2 linked regions of the Homo sapiens genome follow. The protein of the gene in region 1 purifies or fractionates together with the protein of each later gene. This does not show direct contact. Each region holds a gene or a part of one and is shown on either strand. Other genes may lie near its edges. The genes, in order: EGLN2 and RUNX3.

Evidence for each region.
Region 2: the proteins of EGLN2 (region 1) and RUNX3 purify together in Homo sapiens (affinity purification with western blotting, with the first as the bait; one study listed by BioGRID). This does not show direct contact.

Annotation. Positions count from the first base shown.
Region 1 is NC_000019.10:40,805,287-40,808,965, reverse strand, and holds the end of EGLN2 (prolyl hydroxylase EGLN2), read right to left. Parts: intron 2,412-3,679; coding exon 2,292-2,411; intron 1,829-2,291; coding exon 1,692-1,828; intron 1,483-1,691; coding exon 1,415-1,482; intron 1,158-1,414; coding exon 1,102-1,157; 3' UTR 532-1,101; downstream 1-531. UniProt on the Homo sapiens protein: Prolyl hydroxylase that mediates hydroxylation of proline residues in target proteins, such as ATF4, IKBKB, CEP192 and HIF1A. Target proteins are preferentially recognized via a LXXLAP motif.
Region 2 is NC_000001.11:24,909,777-24,913,583, reverse strand, and holds part of RUNX3 (runt-related transcription factor 3), read left to right. Parts: intron 1-3,807. UniProt on the Homo sapiens protein: Forms the heterodimeric complex core-binding factor (CBF) with CBFB.

The sequences.
Region 1 (3,679 bases):
TCACCAAGCCCGCAGGTAACCCAAGTTGCATGTATCCCCAGGGCACTTTTGTGATTCCCCTGCTTGTGACTGCACACCGGGACCCCACTCAATTCAAAGACCCAGACTGCTTCAACCCTACCAACTTCCTGGACAAGGGCAAGTTCCAGGGCAATGATGCTTTCATGCCCTTTGCCTCAGGTGCAGGCAGAGGAGGAAGGGGACCAGCCTGGACTGGCTCTGGGGTACCTGGTGCTCACTGTGCACCTGTGTACCCGGCAAAGCAGATGTGCCTGGGCACAGGCCTGGCCCACTCGGGTATCTTCCTATTCCTTACGGCCACCTTACAGAGGTTCTGCCTGCTCCCTGTGGTACGCCCTGGCACCATCAACCTCACCTGCAGTGCACTGGCCTGGGCAGTGTCCCCCCAGACTTCCAGCTCCAGCCAGTGGCCTGCTGAGGTCAGGCTCCACTATGGTGGGCTCACTGGCCCTCAAACCTCCATACCCTCCTCGGTCAATAAAGGCCCTAAATTGCAGATGGAGTCAGATGTGTGCAGCTCTGAGGTAAACTTTTATTTCTTGGCTGACAGGACTTCCACACCCATGCTCCTCCTGGCACCTTTTACTCTGCCCAAGCAGTGGCAGCCCAGTCCAAAAGGTGCCTGCCATGGCCAAAGGGGTTGGGGAGTCACTTCACATTCCAGGCTGGAGGAGTGAGAGGACTTGGGGGTACTCCTCCCACCCCATTGCCAGCAAGAGGCCATGACTCACCTCAACCCCAAGTCCTGCATCCTGGTGGGAAGTGACAATGCCTCCTCCCAGCTCTCCATACCTAATGGGGTCATGACCAGACAGGGTAGGACCCAGGCCCCCAGCTTCAGTTGGTAACGGTGGCCTCCACGGCTGCCCCCTGTCCAGGTGACAACCCCAGCCCCCATGATGGGGCAGCAAAGGTCTCTTCTCCTCCTTGGTCCTCAGCAACAGACAGAGCCCTCCACACCAGGCAGGACAGAGGCAAAGTCAGAAGCAGCAGCGGTGGCAGGGAAGGAGCAGCCAGCACAGGCCCAGGGCTCTCCTGAAGTCATTTAAGCTGTCTGCCATGCGGCTCTGGGACTGGCCACTAGGTGGGCGTAGGCGGCTGTGATACAGGTACTTGGACACCTTTCTGTCCTGATGCTGGGGGTGAGAGGGGACAGGAGACAGTGAGTCATCAGAAGGACAAAGAAGCCAAGGGAAACCTGGGGAGATGGGGAGAGGACCAGGAAGAAATGGGGCTCCTGTTGGGGTACCAGGAGAGTGGGCTAAGGAAGGTGGGCAGAGATGAAGAAAAATGAGTGGTGGGATTTAACAAGAGGCTGATGAGGGGGATGGGGTGGCATCAGGCCCAAGAGGGCCCACAGAATAGGAAGGACTGAAGGGAGGGAAGCAGGTACCTAGCTGATACTTGTCTTTGGCTGCTGCCCGCTCCTTGGCATCAAAATACCAGACAGTGATGGCGTACCTGGAGACCAGGGTGGTTGGACATTAGTTTTCTGCAATTCCAGCTACCATATCCACACACACTAGGCGGCCATCCTTTTGAGCCACCCGGTTCTGCTCCCACCTAGGCCCCCTCTCAATACTTCGTCGCTCCCTAGTCACTCTGAGGCTCTGACAGGACATTGTCACAGGGGGAGCACCTGGGTGCGTCTCCAGAAGTACAGGTCATACCTGGTGGCATAGGCTGGCTTCACCTCGTGGGGGTTCCGCCGGTCAGACCAGAAAATGAGCAACCGGTCAAAGAGTGGCTCGATGTTGGCTACCACGGGCCGGCCCTCAGGGAAGATCTGCAGCAGGCCGCCATGCACCTGGGGGCAGGCCAAAGGATGAGGCTAGCTGGTACGGCCAGGAGCCGCTGCCTCCCACGGTGCCCCGGGAGCCCACTAGGAGGCGCAGCGTCTGCCTGCATCACTCCCTCCCACCCCTCGGGCTCTCAAAGTGAATGACAACCCAGAGACTGCATCACCATGGAGATGGGCAGGAAGCTACTAAAGACAGGAAAAGGGGGAAAGTGTTCATTACAAGGCCGGGTGGGGCTGGGCAGACAGCACCATTCCCGGAAAGAGGGGAGTTCCCACCACACAGTCCGCTAGAGAGGAGGAGGTGCCATTTCCCAGGAAGAGCCGGCAGATCGCACTGCCCGCTGTGTGTTGAGAAGAGAAACAGGAGAATGCCAGAATCTGGGCTGAGAGTGGAAAATGGAGTGGACGCACGCCACCCCCGCCCCAGCCCTAGCCCCAGCGCCACCCTCACCCTCACCCTCACCCCTACCTTAACGTCCCAGTTCTGATTCAGGTAATAGATACAGGTGATGCAGCGCCCATCGCCGTGGGGATTGTCAACGTGCCTTACGTACCCGAGCCCGTTGCCTGGGTAACACGCCACCATGGCCTGGCAGGGATGGAGGGAGGTAGGTTTACTGGGGCTAGGCAGGCACATCTTAGAGAAGCAGCCATGAATTACCTATTTTCCCACCCCTCCTTGCCCCATCTTCCCCATGACTCCTTGGGTCAAGGGTTCCAAGCTCCTGCCCCAAAAGACTTTCTTTTTCAGCCAAAATCCCATCCCCAAGTCTATCAGAAACCTCAGCTCCTGGGCCTCAAGAGCCCACTCCCTCCCAACACACATACCTGGGGCCTGGCACCCAGCTAGGGCTCAATTAGTAACAGAGTTTGATTTGTTTCAAGATACCCCAAACCCCACCTCAGCCATTTCAGTAGAATAATACCAATTTAAACATTTTCAGGTGTGCAAGGAGGTGGCCTCACAGCCCTAGACCAGGAATTCTTACCCTTGGCTGTGGAGTGGAGCCCCCTGGGGAGCTCTGAGGTTCTGAAGTACCTGGCCTAAGGAAGGGCCTGAAATTGGTAAAGCTTCCCAGGTAATTCTACCATGCAGCAATGTTAAGAACTGCTGCCCTGGACTACAAAGAATCCCCACTAAATTATCTGTCCCATAGACCTCCGAACAGGAGCCAAAAGCTACAGTCTGAATAGAAAGACCTAATTCCAACTCCAAGGATAATTTGCTGGGTAACCCTAGCCAGTTCCAACACCTGAATGGGCCTCAACTGCCTGATGTGTACAGCAGGGGTAATAAACACTGCTGTTTACAGCGGTAGCAATTAATCTCTCTGAGAACATAACTTGGGAGGTTCTGGAGCCCCAACTCCTGGAGATCTAACAGGACTCATTGCAGGGCTTGGTTTCTCTGTCTACAGGGTTCTTTCCTCTGCCTGACAGTTGCCACTCCCCTGACCCAGCCCTACAATGCTGTGGCCAGGGCCCCGGGATGTTTGTCATCAGGGAGCTGGCAGAAAGGTGGCTGAGAGGTAAAGGAAATGGCCCAGCCACTTCTGCAGACACAATTCCCTGGTTCAAGTCTCAGTGCTGCCACATGAGCTGTGGCATCAGGCAGGTGACTTCCTGGTCTCAGGTTCCTCATCCATGGATCCAATGGAGCTCACAGCTATTTCACAGGTTGTTGTGGAACAAGTGAACAAGATAACAAGTGTCTGGGAAGACAGCCAGCACAGTGCCTGCCACATGGAGAACTGGAGCACAGGCTGAAATGCCATTTAAAAATTTTAAAAGGTCCCTGTCCCACCCTCTGCCCAAAGTCACTGCAGTGGCAAGATGAGGTAGCACACAAAAAGGGGA
Region 2 (3,807 bases), on another chromosome or scaffold:
CGCATCAGAGAGGAGCTGTTTGCCTAGGAGCAGATGGCCAAGTCAGAATGGGAACCCAGAACACCTTCCTCAAAGGCCAAGGCCTGGTGGGCTGTGTAATTCTTGAAACCTTTCCTGACCCTCGGGGGTTAGAGGTGTGATCCCCATTTTGCAGATAAGACAGCTGAGGCCCAGAAGGCAAGAGTGGCTTGCCCAAGACAGTGACCACTGGTGGGTGAGAGCTGCCTGGTATGAGCTTGGGGCCACTGGGCCCTTGGGAGGGGCAGGCTGGGATCTGCCCTCCCATAAGTGAGGGTCATAGACACTAATCCAGGCCATGCTGGAGGAGCTGTCTGATCTGAGCCCAGCAGCTGGAGGCTGACAGCAGCCAGGACAGGCCCTGAGGGCCAACGCGGGGCTTTCCCCAGCCATCTCAGTCCTCTGCTTTTAAAAGCATGTGGCCTGTCCTCCAGCTCATCGGCACCCTCAGGGGTTAGACAGTATGATAACCACTTTACAGATGTGGAAACTGTGGCCCAGAGGCAGAGAGTGACTTGGTGGTCTAGAGCAGGGTATGATTGGAAATTGCACTCTCAACCCTGAGCTTCAGAGCAGGGAAGGGCCCCTGGTGGAGTCCACTGAGACCTTCTCATCTTCCTCTCCCAAGTCCTATCCTCCTGGGCCTGCAGATAGCAGCTCTGGGCCTGGGGCTGGACGGGGCCCTAACATCTATTGTGGAGTCCCGATACATCTATTGATGTATCGAACCCAGGCTGGCTGTGAACCCCGCCCTCTTCCGCCACAATAGATGTGTTTTCACAGGCTCTAGGGAGAGCAGGTGGCTGTGTGTCTTCTGCTTGACCTTGAGCTCACTGGCTGTCCAGAGCCTCAGTTTTTTCACCCATATGATAGGATGGTGGCAGACATTACTCAAGGGGATGCTGCCAGGCGAAACAAGATGGTGCTTGTCAGCTGCTTAGACGCTGCCGTGGAGGAAGCACCCAGCAAGCATCTGCTGCCGTTTTGATGATTTCCACTCCTGCTGGCGACTGCTTTAAAGGACAGCCCTAGCCTGCAGAGGTGTGATGGGGATCTACTGTGGGAGAAGGGGGGCTTCCTGGAGGAGGGGCTCCTGGACTGGGCTTCACAGGACAGAAAGCATTGCTGGCAGAGGCTGTCCTGAGCTGAGGCTCTGAAGAGTGGGGGGCAGAGAATATTCAAGAAATACTGGGAACAGCAGCAGCAGGAAGAAGTGGTAGTGGGTGGGCCCTGGGGCCAGCAGCCCTGCCTTCTTTTCTTTCTGGGGCCCCTCTGACCAGCGGCTGATCTTTGCTACCTTAAATCAGGGACTTTCAAAAGGAAGGGGCCTCAGTGAGCAGACTGTGCAGAGGGGAAACTGAGGCGTAGCAGGACTGGGCCCAAGGTGACGGAGTGGGTTAGAGCCAGAGCTCCCCACGCAGCTCTTGCTCTGGGTAACCGAATGAAAGAGGCTTTTTCTGAAGACCATCTTCTTTCCTCAGGCACTGGAACTTCTGTCCTATTCCCAGTGTGAGAGCCCTGGCCCTGTGGCTCTGAGACTCTCTGGCGCCCTGGCCACGTGGGGCCGCCTTGGCTCCCCTCTCCCCTCCCTGGCAGTGGCTCCAGCGTTCCACAGTAACAAGGAAGCTATTTCCGAAGTGCTGTTGGACTCCCCTCCTCCGGGAAGTCTGCCCTACGGAGGGCAAGGGAGCATGTGGTGGGAGCGTGGGTTCCGGGGTCAGATTACCTGACCCACAGCCTGGGTCCCGGAACAGGCGCTCAGCGTCGGTCTCATGGTGAAGCCTCGGTGGCCCCGTCTAAACAATGGGAACAAAAGGGAAAGTGTCAGGAAAAGAGCCCTGGGCTTGGAGTCGGGGGATCCGGGTGTGAATCCTGCCTTGCTGCTCAGGCTCTGTGTTCCTCACACGACTTCAGCATCCTGGCCTCCACACCCCGGTCTCCAGCATGGGGATGATAGTTCTGCTTCCTTTGGGCATGAGCAGAGATAAAAGCGATGGTCATGATGGTGGTGACCCACGTGACTGGAAAGTGTCCACACCTTAGGCCAGCACCTCAACCCACAAAGACAGTGTGATGGGGACACCGCAGCTCGGGGTGGGGGAAAGGAGTGTGACTTGAGTGAGGCCACCAGACTGCAAGTGACAGGACCCGTCCTCGAACCCAGGCTGGCTGTCAACCCCGCCCTCTTCCGCCAGGCCGCAGGAGTAACTGTAAACACTCTTTGTACATGGTGTGACTCAGAAACAGGGGACTTTATTCTCCTGTGACGAAAGTAACAAGGCCTGAGGTTTTGCACCAGCCCTATTGGCTCCCTTCAAGCTTGTGGCTGACTAAAACACCCAGATCCTTTGCACTCAGGCTGTTGTCGGATCAGTCTGTGGTCCCCACGTCCACCCGGCAGGCTTCATGCCTGTTAAGATTCTTCTGCTCACTTGTCCCCCAGCTCATCCACATCTCCCTGCCATTTCCAGTGGCCTCAGGAGCAAGGACAACATTTCCTCCAAGGCCTGTTAGGGCTGAGGACTCGGTCTGGAATTGGAAGCTCTGGCCGTACTGGGCCTGCCCTCCTCAGGGTAGCAGTCAGGTGCTTTCCACAAGGCATCTCCTCCCCATCCGCTCCAGGCCCCACCCATCCCACTTGCCTCGTTCACGTGACTTGCCCCATCCCCATGGGCATCTGAGTTTGCAGCCCCAGCTCCAGCTAAACTCGCCCCCAGCCCATGTTTTCCCCTTTGTTGCCAAGGGCCCTGGGAGGCAGCAGTGGGGGCCTGGCCAGAGACCAAATGGTCTTATTCCTGCCACCAAGTGTCCCATGGATTCCTGGTCTGGGGCCTCATTGGAGGAGAAGGTGGGGCTCCCTGGTTCTTGGTGACTGGCTGAGCCCCTGTGGCTCCCAGGCCCCCTGCTTTCTTTCTGAGGCTCCCAGATACCTGTTTGAGCTTCCAACAGGGATGCGTAGGGAGCTTGGGGGCCTACAAGTACCAGAATCCATTGCGTTCCCATTCTGAAAATCAGAAATCAGGCCCATGCGAGGCCTCGGGCTCTGTCCCCTCATGCCCTACAGTGGTCGACAGGCTTTTCCCACTTTTCGAGTCCCCAGCAATCACTTGTTCAGGCCCCAAGAAGCGCAGTGAGTTCTGTTTTACCTCCCACCTACATCTTGCCTCTTCTCCCTCTGCCAAACTAGAAAACGCACATGTCATTCTAGACCCAAGGCCTTAGGCAAACCTTCTCCTCCCCCTTACCCCCTCCCACATTTTTTTTTTTTTTTTTTTTTGAGATGGAATCTTGCTCTGTCACCTAGGCTGGAGTGCAGTGGTGTGATCTTGGCTCACTGCAACCTCCGCCTCCCGGGTTCAAGCGATTCTCCTGCCTCAGCCTCCCAAGTAGTTGGGATCATAGGCGCCCGCCACCACGCCCGGCTAATTTTTGTACTTTTAGTAGAGACGGGGTTTCACCATATTGGTCAGGCTGGTTTCAAACTCCTGACCTCACTCAGGTGATCCGCCCGCCTCGGCTTCCCAAAGCGCTGGGATTACAGGCGTAGCCACCATGCCTAGCCTCCATCTTTTCTAAAGGGTCCCAGGTCCAGGAAATCCCACCCCTTGTTCGGCGTGTGGCCTCCAACAAGCTTCCTCGCCTCTCCGCAGTTGCAGTTCTCTTACTTGTAAAAGAGGGCCTGGCCACCCTGCCTGACTGGCAGCCTCCCACCAAGTCACGTGAGGTAGAATGGCCGTGACCGTGTTAGGGTTGATCAGCCGAACCCTGGAGTGCACAGTCCTCCAAGGG